Regions from separate parts of the Homo sapiens genome. Here region 1 is linked to region 2. Evidence: fine-mapped expression QTL. A gene starts in region 2. The other region holds a variant in brackets. All regions are shown on one strand. Distances are between the middles of the regions.

Region 1 (16,136 bases), 29 kb after region 2:
ACCACACAGTGCCCCAGACAGCCCTGCACCCGAACACCTGCCTGTCCATCCAAACATCCCTCACCCAGCTCCCTCTTACACCCCAAAACACACATCCACCCGCACCCACACAAGATGACACCCAGACACACACACACACACCCTCATATACCAGACGTACCCTACACCCTCCAGCTCCTCTACCCCATCCCCTGGAAGCTCCTGTATTCCAAACCAAACCCCAAGTCCTTACACACCTAACTCCAAACATCCTCAGTACACAATTGTACACCCCCTCCTAACTCTGACTTAAGACCCTGAGAGCCAAATACCAGCACACAAAACACGTGGACACCCCTCTGGAACAAAAAACACACAGATTCCCAGATCCTCCACCCATGTCTGACCCACACGCCTGTCCTAAGACAGTACACTCCGCAAGCCCCCCCACCCCATGGATACCTCCAAATGCCCACGCCCTTCCAGTCAGGCCCAGCTGAAGGCGCTCACACAGGCCCCCTTCTCTATTACCCACTCAGTGTCCCATAGGCCCGCCTGGCACCTGCTGGGCCTGGGACAGAGGTGGAGAAAGGCCCAGCCCTGCCCCTCAGGGTCCAGCCCGCCCGGGAGAGTGCCCAGTGGCCACTCCTTGGGAAAGGATACCCAGAGGCTAGGGGCTCCCACCGCCCCCACGCAGCGCCCAGGGGTGCAGGGATGGGGGGCCCGGCTGTACCTGCGGCTGCCCCGCCGCGGGGCTGGCTGGGAGGCCCGCGGTGGTTGGCGCCGAGCTGTGGCCGCGGTCCTCACCGCTGCGTGCCTGGGCCACCCGCCCGCGCTCTTGCTGGAGCTGGGGCTCGGCTCGGCTCGGCGGCTCTCTCCGCCCGCCTGCGGCTCTGATGTCAGTGGAGGTGGAGCCTGCGGCGGAGGGACCCGGGATTGGGAGGCGAGGCACCGCTCCAAGGCTGGGGAAGGGGCACGGGTGGAGGCCATCTCCCTGCTTCTGGTCAGAGATCTCCTGCTGGACGCTTCCCGCCCTTGGTCTTAAGCGGGGTCCATTTCACAGAGGGGACAACTGAGGCCCGGAGAGATGATTTTCAAATCAGCGGGTGGTCGGAAGCAAAGCAGGATTCGAACCCCGTCTGTCTGAAGCTAGAGGCCGGCCAAACTCACCCTGTGGCCTGGTGGATTTTCTTTCAGACCAGTTCTGCGACCTCCCTTAGGGCTCTGTCTCCCTTCTCCGTGCCCTGAAGGGAAACAGGCCCTGGAACTGCACGGGAGTCTGGTGGGGGATGGGGGAGTGAGGGAGTGGGGAAGGACCGGGCAAGACTAGGCAATGAAGAGAGTGGAGGTGGTCGCAGGGTGTGGGCCCCACTTGACAGGTGGGAAGACTGAGGCCCCGGTTCCTCTGCAAGATGGAGCTGAGGCTTCAGCCCCAGACACTTGCTCCTCAGAGCGGGTGGTGGTGCCTAGAGGTATTGGGGGCAGAGGGAATTGGGGAGGAGGAAGTTAAATCGGGATCCTGAAGGAAACAGGCCAAAAAGGACCGAGGTGTCACGTGACTGGCGGGGCTCCAGAGTTTGATGGCTGGGGTCCAGGTTAGGGGAGAGAGCCTGCAACTAGGACGGCAGGCAAGAGGCCAAAGGTCGGTTTGCTCAAGGCCTTCCTTGGGAAGAAATTTGGTGCCGAGTGGAAAGAGGGGGCGGGGGGAGCAACTCGCAGGAATTGGGGATGGGGCTGAACTGGGGGCAGCCGGAGGAGGCACGTTGCTTGGGACCCCACTCCACCTCCAAGGGCCTCCAAGTGCCACTCCCTACTCCTGAATTCTTGCATGTTCCAGCTGGTGATGGGGAGAGAACAGTGCTTATGCCCAGCTCATTTCCTTTTTCTCTTTCTTTCTTTCTTTTTTCTTTCTTTCTCTTCTTCTTTTTTTCTTTTTCTTTTTTTTTTAAGACAGGGTCTTGCTCTGTCACCCAGGCTGGAGTGCAATGGCATGATCACGGCCCACTGCAGCCTCAAACTCCTGGGCTCAAGTCATCTTCCTACCTCAGCCTCCCATGTAGATGGGACTACAGGTGCGTGCCACCACACCTGGCTTTTTTATTTTTTGTAGAGATGGGGATCTCACTATATTGCCCAGGCTGGTCTCAAACTCCTGGGCTCAAGCAATCCTCCCCAATCAGCTTCCCAAGGTTCTGGAATTACAGGCATGAGCCACTGCACCTGGCCAATTTATTATGCCCATCTTACAGATGAGAGAGGAAGATAGCTGAGGTTCCTGGAAAGGCTTTGGAGTCTAACTGATCCTGGTCATGCTTTACCTCTCCGAACCTCAGTTTCTTACTCGGGAACATGGGAATATTGAAGATTGACTCAGAGTTCTGAGAATTCTATGATATAATGATATGAAGTGCCTAGAACACTATTCAAAACATGAGAGCTAGACTCAGTGTAAACTGAGACTCAGAGAGAGGACTTGATTTGGCCAGGGATGAGGGGTTAAGGGATCCATCTTCCAAATCTCAGTATCTCAGACTCCTTAGTTCATGGAAAAATACATTTCCTGCTCAGGGCTGAGCCCCCACTCTCCCCTATACCCACCAAGCACACCCACTGAGCTAGGGGTTCTTTTACCACAAATTCCTGTTCATCTTGATGACAACACCCCCTGGGTGATAAGATGACCTCTGTCCTTTCGAGGACTTGTACAACTTCTTTTTTTTTTTTTTTTTTTTTTTTTTGAGACAGTCTCCCTCTGTTGCCCAGGCTGGAGTGCAATGGTGCCATCTCGCCTCACTGCAACCTCCGCCTCCTGGGTTCAAGCAATTCTCCTGCCTCAGCCTCCCAAGTATCTGGGACTACAGGCGTGAACCAACACGCCCAACTAATTTTTGTATTTTTAGTAGAGATGGGGGTTTCACCATGTTGGTCAGGCTGGTCTCGAACTCCTGACCTCAGGTGATCCACCTGCCTCAGCCTCCCAAAGTGCTGGAATTACAGGCATGAGCTACCGCGCCCAGCTGACTTGTACAGCTTCTATGGTGTGCTTTACATTTTTCCTGCTTTTGAGCATTTCTGAGAGGCCTCGTGTTTTCTTTTCTTTAACAAACACATTATCTTTACTTTCTTAGTATTTCTATTGAACAAGTGATACATGGTCATTGCAGGAAAATTCCATAATGTATTGAAAACACACACAGACTAACTGATGAGATTCTTTCGCTTCCCAAGTGACAGAATGCCAACCTAAACCAGCTTCATCCAAGAGGAATCTATAGTTCACAATAGCTGGCACAAGATTGCAGGAAAAACACCAGAGATTAGGGGCTTGGAGACTGGAACTGGAGATGTAGTACTCATAGGATTTGCTTTCTCTGTCTTCCCTCCTCTCTCCTTGTCTTGATTTTTCTTCACACGTTGGCCTCTTTTTCTCTCCAGAGTGAACTTCTAGTTGGCAGGAAACATGGAGTGAGGCAGCCCCAGCTTTCCAATTAAACACAGTGGAAGGAAAGCATCCTCCCAATTTCCTATCTCATTCTCAGGGAAGGACTCTGGCTCTGCTTGAGTGATAGAGTGACATGTTCACCCCTTGGCCTCCAAAACTGTTGCCAGGAGAATTAGGGTGCTATATTGAGCAAGTGTACTGTAATGGGCAGCCATAAGGAATGGAAGAGGTATCTTGTCCAAAGGAATTAGGGGTGCGAGGGAGGCAAGAATAACACAACACTCTCAGCCGGGCCCCCACCAACCAGAGACAACCAGTGTTCACATTTTTAGTACAATTCTTCCAGATTTTTTGGATGCGTATACATATACATCCTTCTGCAGCCCCCAGTCCCGATGAGCACATTTCAAAGTACTAATCAAAAAGTGAGTGAAGGGCCAGGCGTGGGGAGGCCAAGGTGGGCAGATCATCTGAGGTCAGGAGTTTAAGACCAGCCTGGCCAACGTGGTGAAACCCTGTCTCTACTAAAAATACAAAAATTAGCTGGGTGTGGTGGCATGCACCTGTATCCCCAGCCACTTGGGACGCTGAGGCAGGAGAATTGCTTGAACCCAGGAGATGGAAGTTGCAGTGAGCTGAGATTGCACCATTGTACTCCAGCCTGGGTGACACGGCAAGACTACATCTCAAAAAAAAAAAAAAAAAGTGGCTGGGTGCGGTGGCTAACGCCTATAATTCCAGCACCTTGGGAGGCTGAGGCGGGTGGATCATGAGGTCAGGAGATCGAGACCATCCTGGCTAACATGGTGAAACCCTGTTATCTTTTGTATTTCTACTAAAGATACAAAAAATTAGCCAGGCGTGGTGGCGGGCGCCTGTAGTCCCAGCTAATCAGGAGGCTGAGGCAGGAGAATGGCGTGGACCCGGGAGGCAGAGCTTGCAGTGAGCAGAGACCACGCGCCACTGCACTCCAGCCTGGGCGACAGAGCGAGACTCCGTCTCAAAAATAAATAAATGAATAATAATTTAAAAAAAGGTGAGTCAAGGAAAGTCAAATGTTCTCAGGGAAAAGGGGGATGATCTTTTCTTCTTTTTTTTTTTTTTGAATGGCTAAACAGTGCAGACATCTCCATCAATTCTTTTATTTATTTATTTATTTATTATTTTTTTGAGACAGGGCCTCACTCTGTCACCCAGGCTGTGGTGCAGCGGCGCCATCATGGCTCACTGCAGCCTTGACTTCCCAGGCTGGAGTGATCATCCCACCTCAGCCTCCGGAGTAGCTGGGGCTGCAGGTGTGTACCACCATACCTGGCTAATTTTTTTTAGTTTTTTATTTTTTGTAGATATCGGGTCTCTACTCCCTCTGTTGCCCAGACTTCTCTGGAACTCTGGAATCAAGTGATCCTCCTGCTTGGGTCTCCCAGAGTGCCGGGATTATAGGCGTGAGCCAGTATGGCTGGCCTCCATGAATTCTTGAACCTGACAGAAAAGAAGCTATTGAAAGAGTGAGTAGTTAACTAAGATTAGAGAAAATGGAAGAAATAACAAGGAAAAGATGGACAGGTTTATTTTTTAAAATTCTTTGGCTGGGCGTGGTGACTCACTCCTGAATCCCAGCACTTTGGGAGGCCAAGGCAGAAGGATCACCTGAGGTCAGGAGTTCAAGACCAGCCTGGGCAACATAGTGAAACCCCATCTCTACTAAAAATACAAAAATTAGCCAGGTGTGGTGGCGCATGCCTGTAGTCCCAGCTACTCGGGAGGCTGATGCAGGAGAATCACTTGAACCTGGTAGGCGGAGACTGCATTGAGCTGAGATTGCACCATTGCACTCCAGCCAGAATGACAGAGCCAGACTCTGTCTCAAAAAAAAAAAAAAAAAAAACAAAACTTTAACTTTTGTTACTTTTTTTTAACTTTTTTTCAAAAAGTGAAAACCCTACTCTACTCCGAAATGGTAGCCAAAAATGAAAGGCAAACTTCAGACTGGGGAAATGTTTTGTAGACAATGGCTTAATATATTTATTATATAAACAGCACACAGGATTGATAACAAACAGTAAGAACCTAATAAATGGTCAAAGGATACAGATAAAACACAGTAAACACAGGACATTTTGTATCTCACTAGTGATACAAAAAAGTACAAAATAGAAGGTCATTTGCAGCCTTTCAAATTTGAAGTTTAAAAAGCTGGTAACACTGAAGGCTGATGTTGATGTGAGGAATGAGTAGTCCTACATTCTGGTGGGAAAATGATTTGCTAAAGATCCTTTGGAAAGCAATTTGGCAATATGCATCAAAGGCTTAAATAATGTCGAGGCCTTTTGATTCAGGGACTCCTCTTCTGGCAATCAATTTCAGAGAAGTAATCCTAAATTAGGACAAGGCTATATGCTCCAAGATGTTTGAGTAATTTTTTTTTTTTTTTTGGCTGGGCTCATGCCTATAATCCCAGCACTTTGGGAGGCCGAGGCAGGAGGATCACTTGAGCCCAGGAGTTCTCACCAACATGGTGAGACCCTGTCTCTACTAAAAATACAAAAATTAGCTGGGCGTGGTGGCACACGCCTGTAACCCCAGCTACTCGGGAGGTTGAGGCAGGAGAATCACTTGAACCTGGGAGGCTGAGGTTGCAGTGATTTAGATTATGCCACTGCACTCCAGCCTGGGCAACAGAGCAAGACCCTGTCTCAAAAAAAAACCCCAAAAAAACAAAAAACAATATGCCCTGAGCTTTTGATTAAAGGTTTTGATAAGAAATCACCATGTGAAACTTAATTTCCATTTGCTATCAAATGTATGGAGAGTATTTTCAATGTATGATTCCAGTTTCCACATGAGATATTACTGAAACAGATTTTGGAGGACATCTACCAGTCTGCCACATTCCACATCTCACTTGTATTTCTTTGCACCAACTTCACCCTCACTCCCTCTCATTAGTCCAGCCTCTATGCTGCTCTGAGAGTGCTTTCTGCTCACAAACCACCAGTGGCTCCCTGTTACTTCAGAATGTGATTCTCAAACTTTAATATGCACCAGGAATCACCTAGAAGGCATGTTATATATAATGTAAGGCTATGCCCCATACCCAGAGGTTTTTTTTTTTTTTTGAGACAGTCTCACTCTGTCGCCCAGGCTTGAGTGCAGTGGTGTGATCTCTGCTCACTGTAACCTCCACCTTCCAGGTTCAAGCAATTCTCCTGCCTCAGCCTCCCAAGTAGCTGGGATTACAGGTGCGTGCCACCATGCCTGGCTACGTTTTGTATTTTTAGTAGAGACAGGGTTTCACCATATTGGCCAGGCTGGTCTTGAACTCCTGACCTCAGATGATCCGCCTTCCTTGGCCTCCCAAAGTGCTGGGATTACAGGTGTGAGCCACGGCGCCTGACTATACACCCAGAGCTGTTGATTCAGTAGGTCTGTGGCCTGAGAATTTGCATTTTTATCAATTTCCTAAGTGATGCTGTTGCTGGCAGTCCAGGGACCACACTTGGAGCACCATTGTCTAGAGAATAAAGTCCATGCTCCTTAATCTGCCATTCAAACCCTTGCCCAGCCTGGTCTTCAACCTACTTTCTAGCTTCATCTCTTATCCTTTCCTTTCCCCTCCACACACCCAGGGCTCCAGTCACACTGCAGTTCTTACTTCTCTCTAAGCAGGCCAGCTGTTCACACCTCTGTGCCTTGCTCCTTTTGTCTGGAATGTTATCTTCTGCCCAGCAATTTTCTTTCCACATCCTCCCTGAAGCCTTTCCTGACCCTCTAAGCTGTTGTTAAGTCTTTCTCTGCCCCAGGTCCCTGCCAACTTTGCACAGTCTTCTTTTTTCTTTTTTCTTTTCTTTTTTTTTTTTTTTTTTTGAGATGAAGTCTCGCTCTGTTACCCAGGCTGGAGTGCAGTGGCGCGATCTCGGCTCACTGCAAGCTCCGCCTCCCGGGTTCACGCCATGCTCCTGCCTCAGCCTCCTGAGTAGCTGGGACTACAGGTGCCCGCCACCACGCCCGGCTAATTTGTTGTATTTTTAGTAGCGAAGGGGTTTCACCATGTTAGCCAGGATAGTCTCGATCTCCTGACCTCGTGATCCGCCCGCCTCGGCCTCCCAAAGTGCTGGGATTACAGGCGTGAGCCACCGTGCCCGGCCTGCAGTCTTCTTATTGCTCTTGCGGCCTAGTGTTTTGATTGTCTGTCTAGTGTGTCCCCATTTCTGGAGCCTTAGTCACCTCCATAGCTCTCAGCCATGGTGACAGGGTCACTGAATGAGGGAACAAAAGTATAATGAAGAAGTGGAGGTGTGTGGATGGAGTGAATAAGTGAATAGGGTAATTAGGTAGGTGAAGAGAAGAAATGGGGAGTTTATTGATACCTAAACGAGTGAGTTACAGTCCACTGGACTTGGTTCTTTCCATTGAGTCCTGAGCCCCAGGCCAAGAAATAAATTTACTCCCCGACCACATTTCCACAAAGCTCCTGCCATCACTTTCTTTTCAGCAGGAGCCAACTGGGACCCAGAGCACTTGGTGCCCAGAGTACTCAGGAGCAGACAGGGGCTGGGGACCCACTGTGGGTCAGAGCTCACCCTCCCCGTTCTCACTCACCCTGGTGTTGCTGAAAGTCAGCTGTAAGGCATTTGGAACTCTGGGGAGACCATGATGTGCAAGACAGATGCTTTCTAGGGCCAAGACACAAAAGGCTTTGCCTCCAAACTAGTGATAAGGAATCAGAATTGTTTTGAATTAAATTTGGAGACTTGAGGTACTGGAACTAATCCGCCCTCCTCATGACAACCCAGCTTCCTCCACACTCATAAAGGAGGCATCTTTTGGCTCCAGCAGACACTGATATGATTGTAAGAACTCTGCCAGGGATGGTGCTACCTGGGGGCAGCAACTATTCCTGCATCAAGGCTGCATGGCCTCAGCAAGGCACAGCATCTCTTTGAGTCTCTGTGTCATCTGCAGGCTGGAATATTACTCTCCTTGGAGGTGCATGGTAAGCATCAGATAGGAGGGGTGGGTAAAGGGCCTGGCACAGTGCCAGGCAGATAGTAGGTATGCAACAGAGAACAGCTAGAGTGCTCATGACTGATCCTTGAAAGTTAAGTTTCTTCTCTGGTGAACCAGGCCCAGTCGGTCTTCTAGGGTTCTTCTTTCTATTTATATCTGTCTTCCTTCTTTCACAATTCCATCCAATTTTGGGATGTCAGCTCTCATCCCACCTCCTCCACAAAACTGTCTCTGTTCTTGGAACTCTCTACCAACAACGCCCACCATACTTATGGTGTGGCCCAGTGAACATGGAAGTGAGTGGTTAAGAGGAGGGGGGTCTTCAAGCAGAGCTGCCATATATGGCTGCACAGGTTGGGCACTGCCCAAGTATAGGGAGTACCATTCACATACACTGTAATGGGAGTGGGGCCCCAGTGAGTTGTAATGAAGAGGCTCTCTCTGTAAGCCAAATGGCCTGAGTTTGAATGTTGGCTCAACCACTCAATTGCTTGACAAAGCAAGGTATGTAACCTCCTAAGCCTCAGTTTCCTCATCTGTAAATGGGATGTTATTATGGGGTAGCTGATACCTACCCCATAATATTAGGTAGTTGAATGAGTTCAGAACAATGCCTGGTGCATACTAACATTTACTGAGC[C/A]CTTCATTGCATTATCATTATGATTAGAGTTGGTTTCTCATCATTGCATGTGTGGGTGTCTTTTCTCTCTGAGAAGGCTGTGAGCAACCTGGGGACAATGAGTCACTGAGAAATTGCAGCAGCTTGGCCCAGCACCTAGTGGGAGGCAGGGCCTCATGCTGTCCTCTCTCTCAGGATCCTACTTCATCTTTCTTTTTGCCAAAATTCACTTGTAATAGGCCTTTTTTAGTTACAAATCACAAAACTCTAAAGCAAACTAGTTTAAGCCAAAAGAAGCCTTTGTGGGCTGATATATGTGGGAAGTCTAAGGGAGGATCCGGTGGCTTCAAGAATAGCTGGATGCAGCACTTCTCCATCTCCTGGCTCTGCTTTTCTGAGCTGGCTTTATTCTCAAGCAGGTTTTTCCCCATGGGAGGAGAGCAGGTCACTGGGGTAGACTGAGTTTATAGTCTATGGCTTATGGTCCAACAAGAAGTGGAACTCTCCTCTCAGCATCCACAGAGCAATCTTATGGAGGGCCTCGAGTGACCCAGCTTGGGTTACATGCCTGCTTCTGGGACTAATCATTGTGGCTAGAGGGATTGGCACTTGACTGGCCAAGCTGGGGTCATGTGTGCACCCTAGTTTGGCAGTTGGACAAGAACCATGTGTGATGGGGAAGGAACATTTCTCCAACAGAGAGGTGCTGGGTATACGAGAATGTTGGCCATGTTCGCCCTCCTTCTTTATGGCTCAGTTCATAGGTCACTTCCTTAGGGAATCTTACCCTCCCTTCTCTCCTGCGTGGACCTCAACCTTCCCACAGTAAATTGCAAATTATTCCCTGATTCTCTCAGACCAGTCTGGGAACAACTTGAGGCAGGTACCAGAGCATATTTATTCATCTGTGTCCCTTAGGCCAAGCTTCCTGCCCCAGCTGTGGAAGAGACGTTGTCGGTGGTCTATCTAGCACTCACTTCCCTGTTTCCTACTCAGATCTTGTTGGGTTTTACTCTCTCTCCACCACCTTGATGGAGTAGCAAACTCCACTCTGACTGGCATAAAGCCATTACAGTCTCCTTTGCCACAGTGACTGAGGAATGGGCATGTGAGACTGAGTTTGGGCCACTGAAACATGATGGTATCTGGGAAAAGGCTTCTTGCTTCTGTAGATGGGCCATGGAAGCCCGCTGGCTCCGGCTCCCTCCTGTGCTGGATGTAAATGAGGAAGCATCTGGCCCCAACTGCTCCACTGCCACACTACAGCCAGAGAAGGACTCACCTTAGGCAGAGGTCGACACTGTGGAGGGCAGTGTGGTGACCCCTAAGAAACCTGGACCCTTGGGGGAGGGGGGAGGGAAAGCATTAGGAGATATACCTAATGTAAATGACGAGTTAATGGGTGCAGCACACCAACATGGCACATGTATACATATGTAACAAACCTGCACGTTGTACACATGTACCCTAGAACTTAAATTAAAAAAAAAAGAAACCTGGACCCTTGATGACCCTGAAGAATTGCTAGATTGGCTAACCGTGAAGGCCACTCTGTCCCAGGACTGCCCATCCTGCAGCCAACACATTTCCTTACTGTGAATCCACTTTGAGCTGGGGGGGCATTGTTACGTGCAGCCACAAGTATCCTCAGAAAGAGGTACTCAGAAAGTTCTCCCTGACTGAATGCCATGGGTTAGTGGCCATGGGCTGAGAGCCACCAAGCATACCCCCCACAAACCTTACCACCCACACTGGTTCCTTCCTCCCCACTGTAACAGACATTCAAAGACTGGATGCTTTTTTTGAAAAACCACAGCAGTCACTTTATTCTTAAGTTTGCACTTTACAAAACCACAAGGGAGAAGTCCTTGAAGGGGAGACAGGGGTAGGGGATTAGGGAGTGGGGGATGGTAAAGAGGGGAAGAGGAAGACCCAGAAACGAAGTCCCCTCCAACCCCATCTCGGGGACCAAGCAGAGACTAGGCCTCAGGCTAGCCCAGCAGGGCTTCCTGTGTCCTGGTTGTACAGAGCTAGGCCAAAAGACCTCAGGGGAAGGGCCACGGCCCTCTAGAGACTGCCGCCATTTGAGGGACAGCCACAGGCCAATGTTTCCTGTGCCCAAAGAAGGAAGTGGGCCTCCCTTCCCCTCCCCTAGGCCAGATAATCAGCCTGAGGCAGGGGTGAGGGCTACCCATCCAGCAGCTTCAGGATGCTCTCACGCTCCTTCAGAGTCTTCCAGGCCTGGTCCTTTTCTTTCTTGGTGGGAGTCCGCTTCTTCTGCCGGGCAGCCATGATCTTGCGAAAGGCGTCCATGACCTCGTTGTCAGCCATGCGCACCCGCTGCCTCAGCTCCTGCCGGCTCACCTCCTCCTTTGCCAGCCTGTGGGGACCAGCCAGCCAGGTGCCAGGGTCAGCCCACCTCCAGAGAACAACCCCTCCCTCTTCAAGACCGAGCCTACCCACCAGCCCAGGCTGGCATGCCTGTGGATTGTGTCATACAGTCGTGACCAAAAAGCAGTTACTGACCTACACTTACATGGCACTATCTTAAGCTCCTGAAAAATATTAACTCATGTTGATCACGGGGGAGGCTGTGCACATGTGGGGACAGGGAGATACGGGAATTCTCTGTACCTTTCTCTCAATTTTGTTGTGAACTTAAAACTGCTCTAGAAGAATAAAGTCTTGGCTGCACATGGGGGTTCACATCTGCAGTCCCAGCACTTTGGGAGCCCAAGGCAGAAGGATCACTTGAGCCCAGGAGTTCGAGACCAGTCTGAGCAACATAGTGAGACTGTCTCTACAAAAAATTTAAAAAATTAGCTGGGTGTGGTAGTGCACACCTGTAGTCCCAACTCCAAGGGAGCTGAGGATTGCTTGAGGCCAGGAGTTCAAGGTTACAGTGAACTATGATCATGCCACTACACTCCAGTCTGGGCAACAGAGCGTGACTGTGTCTTCAAAAAAAAAAAGGTCTTAAAAATATACACAGTAGGCTGGGCAAAGTAGCTCATGCCTGTAATCCCAGCGCTTTGGGAGATGGAGGCAGGAAGATCACTTGAAGCCAGGAGTTGAGACCAACCTCGGCAACAGAGTAAGACCCTGTCTCTAAAATATATATATATATACATACACACACACAAACACACACACACAGGCACACCCACTCTCTCTCTCTGTCTTTCAGTTAATCCTAACAACCCTGCAAAATATGTACTATTATTCATATGTTACCCGTGAGGAAAATGAGGCTCAAAGATGATCCCAGGATCCCACAGTTAGTGAGGGGGAGATCTGGAGCAGGCTGGGGCCAAACTCTTGTTTTTAAACACTGTTGTTTCAGGTGTTCCGGTGCCAGCAGAAGGCCTGCTTACGTCGGCATCTGCATTCCAGAGCCCCCTAAGGTCTAGGCAGCCTGAGGCTGACAGGAGGTGGGTGAGACACCAGATCAATCTCTCTGAACAGGGTCTGATTTATACATTTCATCGATGGTGGAGCTGGAAGGTCACTTAGTGATTGAGTCCAGCCTGCCAGTTTTCCAGAAGGGGAAGGAGATGCTCAGGTCAGGGGCTGCTTAAGGCCTTGCAGCTGCTCTGCAGCAGGGTAAGGGCTGTGCTCTGGTTTCCTGAGAGCTGCAAGCCATTTCTTCATTGCCCATTACTTCTTTTTTTTTTTTTTTTTTTTTTTTTGAGACAGGTCTCACTCTGTCACCCAGGCTGGAGTACAGTGGCCTGATCAAGCTCACTGCAGCCTCTACCTCCCAGGATCAAGCAATCCTCCCACATCAGCCTCCTGAGTAGGACTATAGGCATGTGCCACCATGCCTAGCTGATTTTTAAAAATTTTTAGTAGAGAAGGGGGTCTGACTACATTGCCCAGGCTAGTTTCGAACTCCTGAGCTCAAACAAGCCTCCCACCTCAGTCTCCCAAAGTGCTGGGATTACAGGCATGAGCCACCAGGCCCAGCTAGGGCCCACTACTTCTGTAACTGCACATGCCTGCTTTTCTCTCTCTTCCTCTCTCTCCCTCTGCTTCCCTCAGTGCCTCTTCCATCTGTGTTTTCTTCTTCTCACCTTTCAGAGAAAACAAACTATTATAGAAAGAGGCTTTGATTCAACCACAGGTTCAAGTCTCAGCTTGCTGTTTATTGACTGTGTGACCTTCAGCAGAGCATTTCGCTTCACTGGGCCTTTATTTCCTCATCTGGTAAACAACGAAAATAGCTCCTCCCTCCTGGGTTGTTGTCAAGACACTTGAGAGAGTGTACATAAAGCCCCTGACACACAGTAGGCCCTCAGCATACATTAGTCACTCTTATCCTTAAATACCCTGGCAGCTTGTCAGCAACTACCTCTCCTTTTAATGGCACTTATCTTTACTGATCATCTGCTAGTAATCTGCAAGTCCCTTGCTCTGCCTCTCTTGCTGGCCCCCAGCACAATATCTAAGAGACAGTAAGAATGGCCAAATGATTAGCCTGGCATGGTAGTGCATGCCTGTAATCCCAACTACTCAGGAGGCTGAGGCAGGAGAACTGCCTGAACCCGGGAGGCGGAGGTTGCAGTGAGCCGAGATCATGGCACTGCACTCCAGCCTGGGCAACAGAGTGAGACACCGTCTCAAAAAAAAAAAAAAAAGGCCAAATGAATGAATGTGCCCTGTCCTGTCAGGGCTCTATGAAGTTAAGACACAGCACTTGTCTGTGAGAAGCAAAGAGACTTGTTCGGGTTGCTTCCCTATCTCTTTACCTAAAGGGTAGCTATTCCACAGTCTTCCTCAAGATGTCACCTATACCCTCGTGATCAATGCAGAACAAGATGGATGGGAGTTGACATCAAATGAATGGCAGGCACTGTGATGGATTCCCAAAAGAACATGTCCTAAAACACTGGTCAATTTCTTGTGATGAGCAAATAAAAATCACAGATCTCCAACAAAATGTTAACAGTTAATTAGTCTAGGTGGAGAATATACTGATGTTTATTGTATGATTCTTTCAGATTTTCTGTGTGTATCAAATTTTTAATAACAAAACTTTGGGGATAAAAAGAAAAGAAGCATGAAAAGACAAAAAATAAATCACACAACAATGTGAATATGGGTAACACTACTAAACTGTACACTTAAAAATGGTTAAGAAGCGTAAATTTTTTTTCTTTTTTTTTTTGAGATGCAGTTTCACTCTTGTTGCCCAGGCTGGAATGCAATGGTGCAGTCTCAGCTCACTGCAACCTCCGCCTCCCAGGTTCAACTGATTCTCCTGCCTCAGCCTCCCATGGAGATACATTTTATATTATGCCTTTACCATAATTAAAAAACCAAACTAGGCCAGGCGCAGTGGCTCACGCCTGTAATCCCGGCACTTTGGGAGGCCGAGGCGGGTGGATCACGAGGTCAGGAGATCGAGACCATCCTGGCTAACACGGTGAAACCCCGTCTCTACTAAAAATACAAAAAAATTAGCTGGGCGTGGTGGTGGGTGCCTGTAGTATCAGCTACTCAGGAGGCTGAGGCAGGAGAATGGCATGAACCTGGGAGGCGGAGCTTGCAGTGAGCCGAGATCATGCCACTGCACTCCAGCCTGGGTGACAGTGCGAGACTCCCTCTCAAAAAAAAACAAAACAAAAACAAATCAAATCAATCGGTCAGTCACAGATGCCTGAGCCCCACTCTGTGGAATCAGAATTTGTTTGGGACATACCCGGTGGACTGGCCACTGCTGTTTTTTTCGAGGCTCTCCAGGTGATTTAGAGGCCAGCCAGGATTGGAAAGCCTGTTGTAAAACCCCTGAAAGGTGACTAGCCGTGGCCACAGCCTCCAAGGCCACCCCCGGGACTGTGCATCCTGCTAACGCTCACCTCAGCAGGTCGTGCTTCTTGGTGCGGTTGTGGGCACTAAGTGCCTTCAGCTCAGCCTGCCGTTTGCGAAGCTCAGCAAGGACCTCATCCTCGGAGTCCTCTGCGGGGCGGTCCTCAGACTCCAAAAGGCCCTGGGCAATTAGCTCCTCCTTGATGCGGCTCTCCAGGGACTTAGTATGCGGCACACTGCAGCGGGAGGCAGGCCCGTCAGACTCAAGAGCCAGCTTGGAGAAGGGCCCACCTTGGAGGTTCCCAGGGCTTCCCAAGGTCAGTGAAAACCTGCCTTTCCCTTTGGGCACCCCCTCTGTATCTATCCAGATACAAAGGGAGGGACAGACACATCTGGTCTGGTTTTTAAAACAAGCAACGTATGTATCTACTATTCAAAAAATATGGAAAAACCCATAATGCCAACAACCCAGAGAGAATTACTATTATTTTGTTATATATTATTATATATATTCCAGATTTTGTTATATATTATTCCTAATCTTTTGCTACATATTAGTCCAGGTTTTTTCCCTTATGTGCACATATTTAAATATATTGTAAGTAAGCCAGGCATGGTGGCTCACACCTGTAATCCCAGCACTTTGGAAGGCCGAGGTGGGAGGATCACCTGAGGTCAGGAGTTCAAGACCAGCCCGGCCAAGATGGTGAAACCCCGTCTCTACTAAAAATACAAAAATGAGCCATACATGGTGGCAGGCGCCTGTAATCACAGCTACTTGGTGGCTGAGGCAGGAGAATCGCTTGAACCTGGGAGGCGGAGGTTGCAGTGAGCCAAGATTGCGCCATTGCGCTCCAACCTAAACGACAAGAGCGAGACTCCATCTCAAAAAAAAAAAAAGAAAAAGAAAAAAAGAAATATATTTTAAGTAAAAATAGTATTATACCATCCATACTGGGCTACAACTAATATTTTCTCCACTTGTCACTCTATAATTTACATCTTTTCATGTCATTTAACTATATTTCTCTATACTTGCAGCTATATGATTAATAGCCCCAAGTTATTTCATCATATGGAGTTATGCCAATTTAGCCAACCATTCCCCTTCAGCAGGACATTTGGGTTATTTATGGTATGAACAGTTCTGTGCTGAACAACCCTGCACTCAGTCTGTGCATGCAGACACGCTGGGTCATCACTCACACTTGAGACTGCTATTAGGCTTCACCTAACTGCCCCCAGCCTCTTACTGATGAGGACTTCCCCAGGTTGAGA
Region 2 (16,136 bases):
CCCTGTCCCACAGCGAGGGTGAGGAGGATGAAGATGAGGAGGAGGATGAGGGTAAGGGCTGGAGCTCAGAGAAAGTCAAGAAGGCCAAGGCCAAGTCCCGGATCAAAATGAAGAAGGCACGGAAGATCCTGGCAGAGAAGCGGGCAGCAGCACCTGTGGTGTCAGTGCCCTGCATCCCACCACACAGGTATGTGGGGAGCCGGTGGACAGGCAGATGAGGGAGAAAGGAGCCTCCAGGAGAGGAGCTGGCAGCCTCCTGAGTGGAATGGCAGGGCTGGGCTATCTTCCCAGGAGCTGCATAGAAGTTAAAAAGAACATATTTTCAAAACAGATAGTTGTCTTTAGCAGGTCACCTGACTTTCACATTAAGAGCCAGAAATGTCAGCTTTTATCTGGCATAGCTAACAGGCGTTTTGGAACTGCCCTTCATTTTGATGGTGTGGTTTGTTAAGTTGGGATGGAAGAGGATGGAACTGCCACTGGCAGCAATGGAAAAAATGGTCTGAATATGAAGAAACAAATAGAATGAAAAGCGGGGAAGGGGAAGCTCAAGAAGTTGTGAAGTGGTTACTGCTGCTCATTTGGGCTGTGATGGCCAGGGATTTTTTTAGTTCTCTTGTGCCGTTTATTTGATTTACTATATATTTCTGCTGTACAGTTGTACTTCATTTTAAAACCTTCAAAGGCTCAGTCTCAGTGGGGCTCCCAGGGTCAAATAGTACTCTGGGCTGCAGTGACTAGAGCAGTCTTAGGGGCAGAAGTCCCTGATTGCTGGTGTACAGGGTTAGGGATCTGGTTTAGTGCTGGGAGCTTGGTTTCCTGTCTGCCACGGTACCACTGATGGCACCACTCTTTCTTCCTTGCCTTAAGTCCAGAGTCCCAGGCCTTTTGGACAAGAGATCCTCTCCCTTCATCCCCATTCAGGAACTTTCACTGGCCAGAGACCCTTGCTCTGCTTAAGAGAATCAGGGCCCAACAAGTTTTACTCTTTGTTTCCTGCCTCCCAGGCTTAGTAAAATCACCAACCGCCTGACCATCCAAAGGAAGAGCCAGTTCATGCAGAGGCTGCACAGCTACTGGACACTGAAGCGGCAGTCACGGAATGGGGTCCCATTGCTACGTCGCCTGCAGACACACCTGCAATCTCAGAGGAACTGTGACCAAGTTGGGGTACTGTGTCCAGTTCCCTGTGGGCTCTGGGAACTAGCGCCAGGGGGACGAAAACCAAAATTTGCAACTGTAGTTTCCAGTGTCAGAGGGCTTAGACTCTTTCCTCCTTTAAGCTAGCCCTCAAACCAGGATCAGCATGGAATGTTCAATGAAAAGATGTTGTTCCTATGTGTTTATGTATTCATTCAACAAACACATACCAAGCATTTATTCTGCCAGGCCTTGGGGACACACAGATTGAGGCACTACCAATAAATTACTGTGCTCCCTCTTTTGGCTTGACCTGAGTTTCCTGGGCTCTCTTCTCCCTGTTGACCTTTCCTCTGGCTTTCTAATCATCCTCTGATCTTCGTTTTGCCTCTACAGAGAGATTCTGAGGATAAGAACTGGGCCCTTAAAGAACAGCTCAAGTCCTGGCAGCGGCTCCGGCATGACTTGGAGCGAGCTCGGCTGCTCGTGGAATTGATCCGCAAGCGGGAAAAACTCAAAAGGGAGACGGTGAGTGCTCCTGGGCCAGCCCTATTTTATAAAAGAAAAAACAAAAAATTAGCCAGGCATGGTGGCAGGCGCCTGTAGTCCCAGCTACTCGGGAGGCTGAGGCAGGAGAATGGCGTGAACCTGGGAGGAGGGGTTTGCAGTGAGCCAAGATCGTGCCACTGTACTCCAGCCTGGGCGACAGAGCGAGACTCCGTCTCAAAAAAAAAAAAAAAAAAAAGACCCAGGAGAAGGAATAGCGTGTGTACCCCAGCCAGATAGCAGCAGGGCTGACGCTGGAGTCAGGTCTCCTGGTGCTCGGTGTGCTTTTAGTTCTGCTGGAAGCAGAATGTCACAGGAGCGTATGAACAGAATCCTCAGTTATGTGACATAGGTAGCTGGTGCTGGTAGTTCAAGAAAGGGGGAAGCCAGAATTGTTGGTGCAAGTTTCCCTGGGTGGAGCCTCATAGAAGGTAGACCTGTATGAGTACACCCAGCTGTGAGGGTGGGAAAGAAGGCGGGTTCCCAGGCCAGCTGGGACCATATCCTCAGACCTCTTTGCCACTGAACTGGCCGAGGCCTGGCTGATCAGGCCTTTTTCTATGTTAGATCAAGGTTCAGCAGATTGCCATGGAGATGCAGCTGACTCCTTTCCTCATCCTCCTTCGCAAAACCTTGGAGCAGCTCCAAGAGAAGGACACAGGCAACATCTTCAGCGAGCCGGTCCCTCTGTCTGAGGTAACCGAATTGGACGAAGTAAGAATCCCTTCCCCTCACTCCACCTTCTCTCTGTTCCTCTCCCAGTTGGACCCCTGCTGCAGGTCTGGGCCAGGACTAGATGGGGACCTTGAAGAGAGGGGCTGGTGGCTCTGGGGCAGGATGAACTGGAGCCACATGTATCACCTGGACTCTGTCTTGTCCCTGTCACACCCCAAGGGCCCAGAATGGGAGGCAGTCTGCACTCCTTCCCCAGAGGCAGGGACTGAGTCTGCCAAATGAATAATCCCAGGGCAGGAAGACACTTTCGGGGTGCTGAACCCTAGAACGGAGACTTTAGAAGGCTCAGCACCTAAAGAACCAGCTCTGAAGCCCTAGGTCCTGACTGGCAGACTCTTCTCTCTAAAAGGTATAAAATGAGAGGCCTGAGGCAGCAGCCTCCTTATAAGTTACTGTTAAGTAAAAAGAGCTGTAGGAATGCAAGGTGGTGTTTATTTTCAGAGGAGTCCCCAAGCCATTTTCTTACTAAAGCCTCATATAGTCTAGAAAGTATATTTGGCTCTACTTTCATCATTTTCCAGGAGAGGAAAAGTAGGCCCAGAGAGGTTAAGAGACTTGCCAAAGTCACACAGCTTGTGACTGGTAAAGTCAGGACCAGAATCCAGCTTTCCTTTCCCCTGTGCTATATGCCTGCCTCTAACTGTGGTGGGAGGAGGTTGCTGGATGTGTTTCAGGGGGGCTTGTTAGGAGCAGGGTTCGGGGCAATAAGGAGGATATCTCCACTTAAAACAAACCTGCCCTGCCCTTCCAGGTACCTGACTACCTAGACCACATCAAAAAGCCCATGGACTTTTTCACCATGAAGCAGAACTTGGAGGCTTACCGCTACCTGAATTTTGATGATTTTGAGGAGGACTTCAACCTCATCGTCAGCAACTGCCTCAAGTATAACGCCAAGGACACCATCTTCTACCGGGCAGCAGTGCGGCTTCGTGAGCAGGGTGGTGCTGTGCTCCGCCAGGCCCGGCGCCAGGCAGAAAAAATGGGCATTGACTTTGAGACGGGCATGCATATCCCCCACAGCCTGGCTGGAGATGAGGCCACACACCACACTGAAGATGGTGGGTGATATATCACACACACATATAAGAGGCCAATGCCGGGGATGGACAGCTTTCCAAAAGTCCCCTCCTGGGAGCAGGCAGTGTAGGCAGAAAGCAGCTAGGCTGAGCAGTGGCAAGCTATCCCCAGGAATGCTCCCCAAGAAGCCAGACTGGGTGAATGGATAGCAGTGCCCGCCATTCCACATCTTGGTGCTGCTATTTTACAGCTGTTCCTGGTGAGAAGCCCAGGGGGGATGAGTGGGTTTCTTGCTGCCTGCCCAGGTTCAAGGGGCCCTGAGGGCTGCCCTGAGTCTGACCTTTCCCCTCCAACCCTACCCCTAGCAGCCGAGGAAGAGCGGCTGGTCTTGCTGGAGAACCAGAAGCACCTGCCAGTGGAAGAACAGCTAAAGCTGCTTCTGGAGCGGCTGGACGAAGTGAATGCCAGCAAGCAGAGTGTGGGCCGCTCACGGCGTGCAAAGATGATCAAGAAAGAGATGACGGCACTGCGGCGGAAGCTTGCCCATCAGCGAGAGACGGGACGTGATGGCCCTGAGCGGCATGGCCCCTCGAGCCGGGGTAGTCTGACACCCCACCCGGCAGCCTGTGACAAGGATGGGCAGACAGATAGTGCGGCAGAGGAGAGCAGCAGCCAGGAGACAAGCAAAGGTCTGAATCCCATGGCAAGGTGGACCCCAAAGCAAGTCAGACTTTGGCTCTGCAGCACACACTCAACCCCTGCCATTCCCCAGGCAGAGGTCCCTCCTACACAGCTAGCTGTACTTTCTCCCTCATTCCCCAATCAGGGGCCTCTTAGCTGCCTCTCTGGCTATTTGTATAAGAGTTAATCTTCCAAATTCCAAGCCCCTAAAATGATCTCCCCAACGTTAGCTGGAGTAATGGTCCTATATGCCCAGGGCATGACCCTGGATATCTACCCTTCTCAAATCAGGCCCCTCACCAACTCTCCTTCTTTCTTTCTCTGCTCCAGGCCTGGGTCCCAACATGTCCTCAACCCCCGCACATGAGGTGGGCAGGAGAACCTCAGTTCTGTTCTCCAAAAAGAACCCGAAGACAGCTGGACCGCCCAAGAGGCCGGGCCGGCCCCCCAAAAACCGGGAGAGCCAGATGACCCCCAGCCACGGAGGCAGTCCTGTGGGGCCCCCCCAGCTCCCCATCATGAGTTCCCTGCGTCAGCGCAAGCGGGGTAGGAGCCCCCGGCCCAGTTCGAGCTCAGACAGCGACAGTGATAAGTCCACAGAAGACCCCCCAATGGGTGAGCCTTACCATCACCCAGCCCCCCAAGAGAGTGAGCAAAGCTGCCATTCTTCCCAGCATACTCCCAGTTACCCCTTTATTTGCCCATAAAAGAGCGAGCTAGAAGGGTCCTTAGGAATCCTTTAACTCCACTCACTCATCTTACAGTTGGGAAAACTGAGGCCCAGAGACACTACGACCCAGCTAAAGTCCCATCCAGGGCCCCCTGCCTCCATTGTATCACTTTACCTTTTCTCTTCTCACCTTCCTTGGGGATCTCCTGCCCTTTAAGCCATTTGTGTCCTAAAGCCAGTAACTGCCGAGGGAAGCAAGGGGTGGAGCAGGGCTGTGGCCAACTGTGGTAGACACTGCCCAGAGCTAGCTCTGCTGGCCAAGGTTGGAGGAATTTTCCAGCACAGAAGGGGAACCCAAGCTCCAAGTCCCTCTTACCTCCATGTCATCTCTGATCTACATCTTCCTGACCGGTTCCTTCCCTCCTCCCCTTCCCTTCAACCAAGACTTACCAGCCAATGGCTTCAGCGGTGGAAACCAACCAGTGAAGAAGAGTTTCTTGGTATACCGTAATGACTGCAGCCTTCCCCGGAGCAGCTCAGACTCTGAGTCCAGCAGCAGTAGCAGTAGCAGCGCTGCTTCAGACCGGACCAGGTACCAGCCCTCCAGATCGAGGCCAACCTCAGGGGATGCCCTTCCAGGGCTCTTGGGCCTGTGTAGGTTTCCCTGTTGGAAGTGGGGTGGCAGCCATCTCAGTCTAGATTAAGATGGCTCAAACTCAAGGTTCTCTGCTAAATAAATAAATCAGTGTTACCATTAATAGAACAGAGAGAACCATCCTGGATTAAGGTGATGATTAGAGTATGCACTCCTGCCGCCACTGCTCAGGCTAACCCACCTCTGTTAGGTCATCAGCCTAGCCCCTGTGGGTGTTTGAATTTGAAATTCCTCATATAGCCTCTGCTTTCCAAAAGTCTCAGACCCTGCGGGCTTTAAGAGCTGAGGGCACATACCATGCTGTTCCCCATTCTTCCCCTCCTTTGAGCTGAGCTCCCATTGTCTTGTCCACAGCACAACGCCCTCAAAACAAGGCCGGGGCAAACCCTCCTTCTCTCGGGGCACTTTCCCAGAGGACAGCAGTGAGGATACCTCAGGCACTGAGAATGAGGCCTACTCCGTGGGCACTGGCCGCGGCGTGGGCCACAGCAGTAAGTTCCCTTGCCCAAGGCCAGGGATGCTGGGGACCCAGTGTCAGGGTCTCGCCAGCCCCCCAGCTGCTGATCCACCCCCTCTCCCCCATTCCTGTGAAGTGGTAAGGAAGAGTCTGGGCCGGGGAGCTGGCTGGCTGTCAGAGGATGAGGACTCCCCGCTGGATGCTCTGGACCTCGTGTGGGCCAAATGCCGAGGCTATCCATCATACCCAGCTCTGGTATGCTTGCTTCTGTTACACTTCTTGCTTTCCAATCCCAGAATACAGATTCACAGTTAGCAGACTTTTCCTACTCCCTGCTGAGCTGTGGGGCACAGAGTTTCTTGGTAAGGTAGACTGGTGGGCAGATACAGCTTGAGTACCACTTAGAGGCTCCCACTCAGTTTCTCCATCTCTCCCTTTTGCTTCTCTTTGCTCCTTGGGCTCTGAAATAATTTAGCATGGAAAGAAGCTGAGGGTCAGCATTGCAGTTCTAGTAGCATGATACCCTCTCTGTCCCCACTTCAGACATACTCTCTAAGTTCTTGAGGAGGAAAAGCCTTGGGAGGACATGGACTGAACCAAACTGGGCTCTTATTATATCCTCAGATCATTGATCCAAAGATGCCCCGAGAAGGTATGTTCCACCATGGGGTTCCCATCCCTGTGCCCCCACTGGAGGTGCTGAAACTTGGGGAGCAGATGACCCAGGAAGCCCGAGAGCATCTCTACCTCGTCCTCTTCTTTGACAACAAACGAACCTGGTAAGGAGGGGAGCATTTGGTGTGACTCACAGCCACAGATGCAGCCCTGTGTGGTATGGGGGCAGACTGCCAGGAAACTCCAGCAACAGGCAGACTGGGCTATCACAAGTCAGTGGGGGAGGGACTTAGAACAGTTTTTTGAGCGAAAGGGTTGTGTCGACCATGTGTCTGAGAGGCTGAGTGGGCACTAGTGGACACAGCTATAGCTAGAAACCAAAGGACCATCAGAGACTTATGACAAATATAGAGGTGGCTCCCACCCAGACTCAGATGGCTTCTAGACTTAGTTTTCCCACCTCTGCCTCCACAGTGACAAAATGAGGATAAAGCAGGCATAAACATTCAGGCTCTGAATCCCTGTTCTGTCACATTTACACATGTAGTCTTTTTGTTAATTGTCTGCAGAGGATATTCAATGTCAGTAAAGTCTGCCTAGAGCCTATGGCACAGGGTAGCTATTTCTGGTGAGGTCAGGGTGCCTCCTTTTTGTACCCATAAATACCCTGTGATTACCCTCCCGCCGCCACCACACAGTATAACTGTTGACTGGGCTCTTTCATCTCTAGACCATGAACAGTCCTTTGAGGGCAGGGACCATCACAGAGTCTGGCCAGAGTGGGTGCTTGGGTGGTGTGTTTGAGTGAATAGAGGAGGAAGGCTGGTCCTTGTTCTCCCTGAGATGATTTATTTGATCTTCACCTTATCCTATAGGCAGTGGCTGCCCAGGACCAAGCTGGTTCCTCTGGGTGTGAACCAGGACCTAGACAAGGAGAAGATGCTGGAGGGCCGCAAGTCCAACATCCGCAAGTCAGTACAGATCGCCTACCACAGGGCTCTGCAGCACCGCAGCAAGGTGCAAGGCGAGCAGAGCAGTGAGACCAGCGATAGTGATTGATACTGCTCAACACAGCCCAACCTATAGTGCCCTGTGACTTCTCTCCTCCCCTTTGCTCACTGTCCTGGAGTGGCACCGGCCTCTGCACTGACTCATTTCTGGTCTTGGGGCCAGTCTCAGGGGAAGCTGGGTGGGGGAGGTCCCTCCTGCCCTAAGTGCAGCTGGACTGTACAGAACACTCCAAGGGCCAATGGCAGTTCAGCGCAAGGAGAGGGAGGGCCCACAGGTCAGAAAAAGCTCCAGAGACCTCACAGCATTGTAGGGCGGGGTGGTGGGCCAAAGTTAGGACACTGCGTAAAACAGGCCATCCCACCACCTCTACCTGCTCATGCCAGGAGAATCCATAACTGCCTAGAGGCCTGGGGCCCCTACCGGTCGTGAGGTGAGTGGGCATCTGTCCAGCCTGGAAGAGGGGCACTAGGTGACTCCCTCCCCTGCTGTTGTAAATACTGTAATTATCGGAGAATTTAAATTATTCTCATTTGTAACTGCGTTTCCGGGTCGCGCCAGAGTCATTTGGTACTAAAAAAAAAAAAAAAAAAGACTGGGGGCTGTCCCCATTTCCCTTCTCTTTCCCATAGATTCCCCCACCTTTCAAACTGGTTTGTATTTATTTCAAAGGAAGAAAATATATTGATTCTTAGAAAATAAACTGTCAATTTAGAATTCTTTGTTCTTGCCCCCTGCCAGGGCAAAGGGGATACAAAGGGAGGTTCTGTGCCCCAGGGATGATACATAATTGGGCCCAAGTGGTTGCTGACTGCTGTGCATGCTACATTTCATAAGACACAGCAAAGAGAGCCCCTGTTGCCCATGCATGGAGTGAGTGGCAGGCCCTGTGTTGAGCACCTTTAGACATTCAGCTTTGCGTAATCCTTGCAATAACTATAGGGTAGTTTAATAATAGACTGGTTATCTCCACAAAGATGCTGAAGTTTCAAAAAATTATCTTGCCTAAGTTCCTACAACTAGGAAGGTGCAGAGCTAGAATTGGAACCCAGGTCTGTTTGCAAACCTGGCTCTTCAACCAGTATGCTGAACTGCCAGGGGAAGAGTCAACTATCGATTCCTACTTGGCCCTTAGAGGCCTCAAGTCCTTTGCCAGTGGCATGGCCCAAGTGTTTCAGCATCAATACAGCTGAGACCTTCCCCACTGCTTAACCGGAGACAGAGCTGGGATGGAGACGGTTGCTCTTTGCTCACCCCCAACCTCAGCACCTTCTTTCCAGACTCCACCGACATTTATTGAAGGAATGCCTTCCAAGTGCTAGGCGCCTGTGGGATGGCATGCCTACAGATAGGAACAGTCACAGGAAGAAGGGGCGGCCCAGGCCTTGCAGCCACTGAGGACTGGCACTGAGACAATGATGGCACTGGTCTGATGTTGATTCCATGCTGACGGTACACTCCGCTAGGTCTCTGGCTGGGACACAAGGGTCAATCCGCTGCAGATGTTGCTCTTCAAGAATTTGCAGTCTGGGCGGGGTGCGGTGGCTCACGCCTGTAATCCCAACACTTTAAGAGGCCGAGGCGGCTGGATCACGAGGTCAAGAGATCGAGACCATGCTAGCCAACATGGTGAAACCCCATCTCTACTAAAAATACAAAAATTAGCTGGGCGTGGTGGCGCGCACCTGTAGTCCCAGCTACTCGGGAGGCTGAGGCAGGAGAATCGCTTGAACCCGGGAGGCGGAGCTTGCAGTGAGCCGAGATCGCGCCATCACACTCCAGCCTAGGCGACAGAGTGAGACTCCGTCTCAAAGAAAAAAAACTTGCAGCCTGATAGTTAAGATACAGCAACCCCAAATCCCTATGCTAAAAGGTGAGAATGGCCCAGATAAAGGTCATGTCTCCTAGCTCCCTGCTTTTTCATGCCATCCTCCAGAAGGGAAGAAATTAAATAATCCATCCTCCTACTCCAGGCGACTAGAAGGCAGGCTGCCTCAGGGCCACACACTGGGACTTGGACTCAACCTGATGGGCTTCTGGGCCCAGCCCCAGACAAACCCCCGGCAAACGTCCCATTCCGAGGAAAGCATGAGCAGATGGAGTATGGAAGAAATGCCCAAGACGGCAGGCAGCAGCTGTGGCGGCCGGCGGGACGACAATCCGAGGAGAGGCCTCTGATGTCCTGAGGTCTCAGAGGACGCCTAAAGGCCTTGAATGGGACAAGCTTAGCGGGCGGGCGCAGAAGAGAATAATACTCTGGAGACACTTCCCGAGGGCTCTGGGGCCGGAGCTGTGTTCGCTCCGGTTCTTGGTGAAGACAGGGTTCGTGGGAGGCGGCCCAAGGAGGGCGAACGCCTAAGACTGCAAAGGCTCGGGGGAGAACGGCTCTCGGAGAACGGGCTGGGGAAGGACGTGGCTCTGAAGACGGACAGCCCTGAGGAACCGCGGGGCGCCCAGATGGAACTCGTTAGCGCCCCGAGTGCAGACAATCCCGGAGGGGGAAAGGCGAGCAGCTGGCAGAGAGCCCAGTGCCGGCCAACCGCGCGAGCGCCTCAGAACGGCCCGCCCACCCTGATTTCTCATTGGCGCCTCCTACCTCCTCCTCGGATTGGCTACCTCTAGGTGAAATGAGCGGTGGTTGAGCCCTACTTCCGGTGGTGCTGTGGTCTGCCCCTGGAGAACCCAGAAGAACACAGCTGTGCGCGCCCACAGGCTCTGGGGGCGGGAGAAGATAAGTCGCAAGGAGGGGGCGGGACCTACACCTCAGGAAAGCCGGAGAATTGGGGCACGAAGCGGGGCTTTGATGACCCGCAAAGGGCGAGGCATGCAGGAGGTGGAGGAATTAAGTGAAACAGGGAAGGTTGTTAAACAGCACCGTGTGGGCGAGGCCTTAAGGGTCGTGGTCCTTGTCTGGGCGGGGTCTTTGGGCGTCGACGAGGCCTGGTTCTGGGTAGGCGGGGCTACTACGGGGCGGTGCCTGCTGTGGAAATGCCTGCCCGCGCGCTTCTGCCCAGGCGCATGGGGCATCGTACTCTAGCCTCCACTCCTGCCCTGTGGGCCTCCATCCCGTGCCCTCGCTCTGAGCTGCGCCTGGACCTGGTTCTGCCTTCTGGACAATCTTTCCGGTGAGTGACTGAGCCTGAGAAGCCTGTCCCCTCGGACTGGCTCCTGCCGCCTCAACACTGCCTGGCATGGGGTACAAAGGAATTTGGGGGATGATGGAAGAAACCCGGGGTACAAAAGAGGAAACAAGCACGGGTAGCCAACCTGTTACCTTTAATATGTCTGTACAGTGATAATTGTAAGGATCCAGCGGTATAACCGATGCAGAAGATAATAGCACTTGTTTTTCTTTTTTTGAGACAGGGTCTCGCTCTGTTGCCCAGGTAGGAATGCAGAGAGGCCCATTCCAGCCTCGACCCCCCGGGCGCAGCCTCCCGAGTAGCTGGGACTACAGGTGTGCGCCATGCCCGGTTAAATTTTTGTATTTTTTGTAGAGGTGAGGTTTCGCCATGTTGCTCAGACTGGAAGATAGCACTGTTACTTGTATTAGTTTCGTACATGGAGCTATTGTAGGATAGGAGGGACCCCAAAGGGTGCAAGAAAGGAAATTGAGTGCCAGGGTTGTCATGTGCCTTGGGCTCAGGTGGAGGGAGCAAAGTCCTGCACACTGGAGTGGTGTACTAGCGGATCAAGTATGGACACTGACTCAGACTGAGGAGCAGCTCCACTGCACTGTGTACCGAGGAGACAAGAGCCAGGCTAGCAGGCCCACACCAGACGAGCTGGAGGCCGTGCGCAAGTACTTCCAGCTAGATGTTACCCTGGCTCAACTGTATCACCACTGGGGTTCCGTGGACTCCCACTTCCAAGAGGTGGCTCAGAAATTCCAAGGTGAGTACAGGACCTGGGCTGGGGTTAGGGTTCTTGGACATAAGTCACTTCTCTATGACTCAGTTTTGCCACCTGTAAAATGGGGATTATATCTACTTCATAGGCTTTTATGAGGATTTAAGGAACTAATACATGTAAAGTGCTTAGAATAATGCCAGGCACATAGTAAGTATTATTACCATTATTATTATCCTGCTAATCACCATAGTGAAGTGACAAGGATTTTGAGCCCATTCCTGGTTGTGTGACCTAGGGCAAGTGATTTCATTCATTCTGTAAATATATACAAAGCATCTGCTGTGTGACCGGGGATACACCAGTGAACAAAACAGACCCAAATGCCAGTCCTCATGGAGCTTACATTGTGGCCTCTTTATCTGTGGAATGGGATGGTAACTCAGCCCTCACAAGATGCTATGAGGAATGAGAGGTCTGGTGTTGCTTTCTCTAACGGTGCTGACTCTCATTCTCCTGGGATCCTCCTGGAGTTTTGGTACCTAGGATCTGACCTGTGGGTGGGAAGAGGCCACACCCAACAGCAGGTACCTCTCCTACCCCCTGCATTTCTGGTCTCCAGGTGTGCGACTGCTGCGACAAGACCCCATCGAATGCCTTTTCTCTTTTATCTGTTCCTCCAACAACAACATCGCCCGCATCACTGGCATGGTGGAGCGGCTGTGCCAGGCTTTTGGACCTCGGCTCATCCAGCTTGATGATGTCACCTACCATGGCTTCCCCAGCCTGCAGGCCCTGGCTGGTGAGTAGGTGGGTCCCCTGCCCCCAGGCCTTCCATCAGCTTTCAAGATCTGTTCATTTCTCCCCTGGTTACCTTCTCAAGGCTTCCTGCCTTCCCAAACACTTCCCCTATCCAGAACCGCCCTGCCTGGTCTGATCAACTCCAGTTACTCATCCTCCCTATGCATCCCTAAAATGTCAGCACCTCACTGGTCTGTGCTTTTTGCCCAATGGGTTCAATGCCTAATCAGAAAAATATCTGTATACAATGTACAGTAGTTTGGGGTTAAGAGCATGCATTCTGGGGACAGACCCATGCCTGGTTCTGAACCCCAACTCTCACTTGGGCACATTATTTAGCATCTCTGTACTAAAGTTTCTTCATCTGTGAAGTAGAATAATAATAGCACCTACCTATGCTATTATTGGAGTTGTCATGAGGGTTGAAGAAAGGAATATACATACTGCACCTAGCACAGTGTTTGGCACACAGGAAGTATATGTAAAATTCAAGCTGGTATCAGCCAGGCGCAGTGGCTCACACCTGGCTAACACAGTGAAACCCCGTCTCCAGCCTGGGCAACAGAGCGAGACTCTGTCTCAAAAAAAAAAAAAAAAAAAAAAATTCAAGCTGGTATCATTGTAGTGAATGGGATAGTTTTGTATCTAAGAACACGTGTGTTCTTCACAGTAGCCCTGTAAGGCAAATGTTTTACAGAGGCAAGTGTATCGATTGGCAGATGTGAGAACCAAGCTAGGACAAGTGCTTGGGAACTGCATAGCAAAGAGACAGACTGCCTCAAAACAGGAGAATGTTTTTGGTGCTTAGAAACCCATTCCTGGCCGGGCGTGGTGGCTCACGCCTGTAATCCCAACACTTTGGGAGGTCGAGGCAGGCAGATCATCTGAGGTCAGGAGTTCAAGACCAGCCTGGCCAACATGGTGAAACCCCATCTCTACTAAAAATACGAAAATTAGTCAGGCGTGATGGCAGGCACCTGTCCCAGCTACTCCGGAGGGTGAGGCAGGAGAATTGCTTGAACCCGGGAGCAGGAGGCTCCAGTGAACCAAGATCAGACCACAGCACTCCAGCCTGGGTTACAGAGCGAGACTCCATCTCAAAACAAACAAAAAGAAACCTGGGTCAGGCACGGTGGCTCACACCTGTAATCCCAACACTTTGGGAGGCTGAGGCAGGTGGATCACCTGAGGTCGGGAGTTTGAGACCAGACTGGCCAACCTGGTGAAACCCGCTCTCTGCTAAAAATTAGCTGGGCGTGGTGGCAGGTACCTGTAATCCCAGCTACTCAGGAGGCTGAGGCGGGAGAATCATTTGAACCTGGGAAGCAGAGGTTGCAGTGAGCTGAGATCATGCCATTGCACTCCAGCCTGGGCGACAGGGCGACAGGGCGAGACTCCGTCTCAAAAAAAAAAAAAAAACCTGGCCGGGCGTGGTGGCTCACACCCGTAATCCCAGCATTTTGGGAGGCCGAGGCGGGTGGATCACGAGGTCAGGAGATCAAGACCATCCTGCCTAATACGGTGAAACCCCGTCTCTACTAAAAATACAAAAAAAATTAGCCGGGTGTGGTGGTGGGCGCCTGTAGTCCCAGCTACTTGGGAGGCTGAGGCAGGAGAATGGCGTGAACCCGGGAGGCGAAGCTTGCAGTGAGCCGAGATCGTGCCACTGCACTCCAGCCTGGGCGACAGAGTGAGACTCTGTCTCAACAAAAAAAAAAAGAAACCTGTTCTTGAGTCTCAGCTCCTGGCTTAGTTAGTCATAAGGCCTCAAGAAAGTCATTCACCTCTTCCGGCTTCTCTTAGCTTGTTTGTAGAATGGGAATAACAGTTTCTATCTAGAAGGGCTTTGGGAGTGAATAAAGCAATCATGAGGCAGTGTAGTGTAATGGGTTAAGAGCACGGCGTTAGCCAGGTGGGGTAGCTCATGCTGGTAATTTCAGCACTTTTGGGAGCCCAAGGTGGGAGGATGGCTTGAGCCCAGGAGTTTGAGACCAGCCTGGGCAACATAGTGAGACCTCATCTCTACAAAAAATAAACAAAATTAGCCAGGCATGGTGACACAAGCCTGTAGTCTCAGCTACTCAGGAGGCTGAGGTGGGAGGATCGCTTGAGCCTTAGGAGGTCAAGGCTGTAGTGAACTGAGATTGTGCCACTGCATTCCAGCCTGGGTGACAGAGCAAGACCCTGTGTCAAAAAAAGAAAAAGCACAGGTCTTGGTGTCCCAGACCTAGGTGCAAGATCTTATCTCCCCCATGTCCTTTCTTAAGTAAGTTAACCTCTTCTAAGCCCTCATTTTCTCCACATGTAAAATGGGAAAACAGCAGTACTGTCAGTGGGGTTCTTGGGAAAAGTAAGCATGATAATATATCTGAAGCATGTTGCCTAGCACTTGATCATAGAAGCTGTTGCTATATTGTGGTTATTTTTTTAGATCATGAGTGTGAACACTCTTTCGGAAAGGTTAAGGAACTCAGTTGGGGAGCTCCTCAAGGGAAGCAAGTCCTCAGTCCCTGGACTAGACTTGGGCTCCGGGGCCAATTCATAGCAGGTGCTCAGAAAACATGTGTAGAGGGACAGGACCCAGGCCTAACCCTTTCCCTTGCACATAAAAGTGTCCACTATCCCATAGAGGGTGGGGAGGTAGGAGGGGAACTTAGGAAAAGCACTCTTGTGAGGTAGAGAGCTCACTTACTAGCCTAAGGACAGGAAGAACTTGAAGATGCCTGATGCTTGCCCTCCTCCTCACTCCCCGCAGGGCCAGAGGTGGAGGCTCATCTCAGGAAGCTGGGCCTGGGCTATCGTGCCCGTTACGTGAGTGCCAGTGCCCGAGCCATCCTGGAAGAACAGGGCGGGCTAGCCTGGCTGCAGCAGCTACGAGAGTCCTCATATGAGGAGGCCCACAAGGCCCTCTGCATCCTGCCTGGAGTGGGCACCAAGGTGAGGCCCCAGGGGGTAGGAGCTGCCCTCTCTACTGACACTAAGAGGAGAGCAGGAAATGAGCCAAGCCTGGGAGCTGGGTGGAGGCTTGGCTTCCGGAGGCAGAGCAGGAAGGAGAAAGGATATAAGTAGATGTTTTATGAGAGAAAAAAGCAGAGTGCAGAAAGAGTAGAAAGGATATAGCCCTTTGAATGAATTTCTAGAAAGACCATTTGTTCAGATGCAACACATATATGCTGCTATATATATGCAGCAATTTCCAGAAGGAAATTGCAGGAAACTAAATAATAGTTTCCTTGGGGGAGACAAATGGGAAGATATTTCTTCTTTTCGGTTTTTTGTTTGTTTGTTTGTTTTGGTAGAAATAGGCTCTTAACAATGTTGCCTAGGCTGGTCTTAAACTCTTGCCCTCAAGCAGTGTTCCTGCTTTGCCCTCCCAAAGTGCTGGAATTACAGGGATGAGCCACTGCTCCCGGCCACATTTTGTTCCTTTCGTAAAATGACATGTACTGACAAAACTTTTTGCTTGATGTCAATAGGGTTAACTGGCAATAAGATGACTGGAAATTAGGCATTTGTCTTTTTTTTTTTTTTTTTGAGGTGGAGTCTTGCTTTGTTGCCAGGCTGGAGTGCAGTGGTGCAATCTCGGCTCACTGCAACCTCCGCCTCCCGGCTTCAAGCTATTCTCCTGCCTCAGCCTCCAGATTAGCTGGGATTACAGGCATGCGCCACCACACCCAGCTAATTTTTGTATTTTTAGTAGAGATGGGGTTTCACCATGTTGGGCCAGGATGGTCTCAATCTGACCTCGAGATCCACCTGCCTCAGCCTCCCAAAGTGCTGGGATTACAGGCGTGAGCCACTGCACCCAGCCTTTTTTTTTCTTTATACTTCTCTGTAGTTTAAAAAATGAATTTTTGCTTAAAGATTTTTTTTTGATGGGCTTTGGACTACAGCCTAACATTAAATCTTGGTTCTGCCTATTCTCAGCCATGTGACTTTGGCCAGGTCACTTCACCTTT

The links. PIP is the estimated chance that this variant, and not a neighbour inherited with it, causes the effect.
Region 1: its variant is fine-mapped to the expression of OGG1 in whole blood (INTERVAL, PIP 0.92).

Annotation. Positions count from the first base shown.
Region 1 is chr3:9,769,120-9,785,255 of GRCh38, forward strand. TADA3 (transcriptional adaptor 3) reads right to left here. Exons shown (of 9, transcript NM_006354.5): 8 at 14,909-15,094; 9 at 10,848-11,430. The coding sequence ends at 11,238. CAMK1 (calcium/calmodulin dependent protein kinase I) reads right to left here and starts at 828. Exons shown (of 12, transcript NM_003656.5): 1 at 713-828. It also overlaps a transcript of OGG1 not described here. RefSeq lists silencers at 599-778, 13,794-13,843 and an enhancer at 9,026-9,320. The variant C/A (reference allele first, on the strand shown) is at 9,072.
Region 2 is chr3:9,739,772-9,755,907 of GRCh38, forward strand. OGG1 (8-oxoguanine DNA glycosylase) reads left to right here and starts at 10,181. Exons shown (of 7, transcript NM_002542.6): 1 at 10,181-10,652; 2 at 11,174-11,421; 3 at 11,999-12,178; 4 at 14,933-15,114. The coding sequence starts at 10,516. BRPF1 (bromodomain and PHD finger containing 1) reads left to right here. Exons shown (of 14, transcript NM_001003694.2): 3 at 1-187; 4 at 1,008-1,170; 5 at 1,537-1,668; 6 at 2,254-2,400; 7 at 3,173-3,482; 8 at 3,807-4,130; 9 at 4,453-4,737; 10 at 5,237-5,384; 11 at 5,802-5,938; 12 at 6,041-6,159; 13 at 6,529-6,683; 14 at 7,395-8,244. The coding sequence ends at 7,578. RefSeq lists enhancers at 9,755-9,804, 9,835-9,954.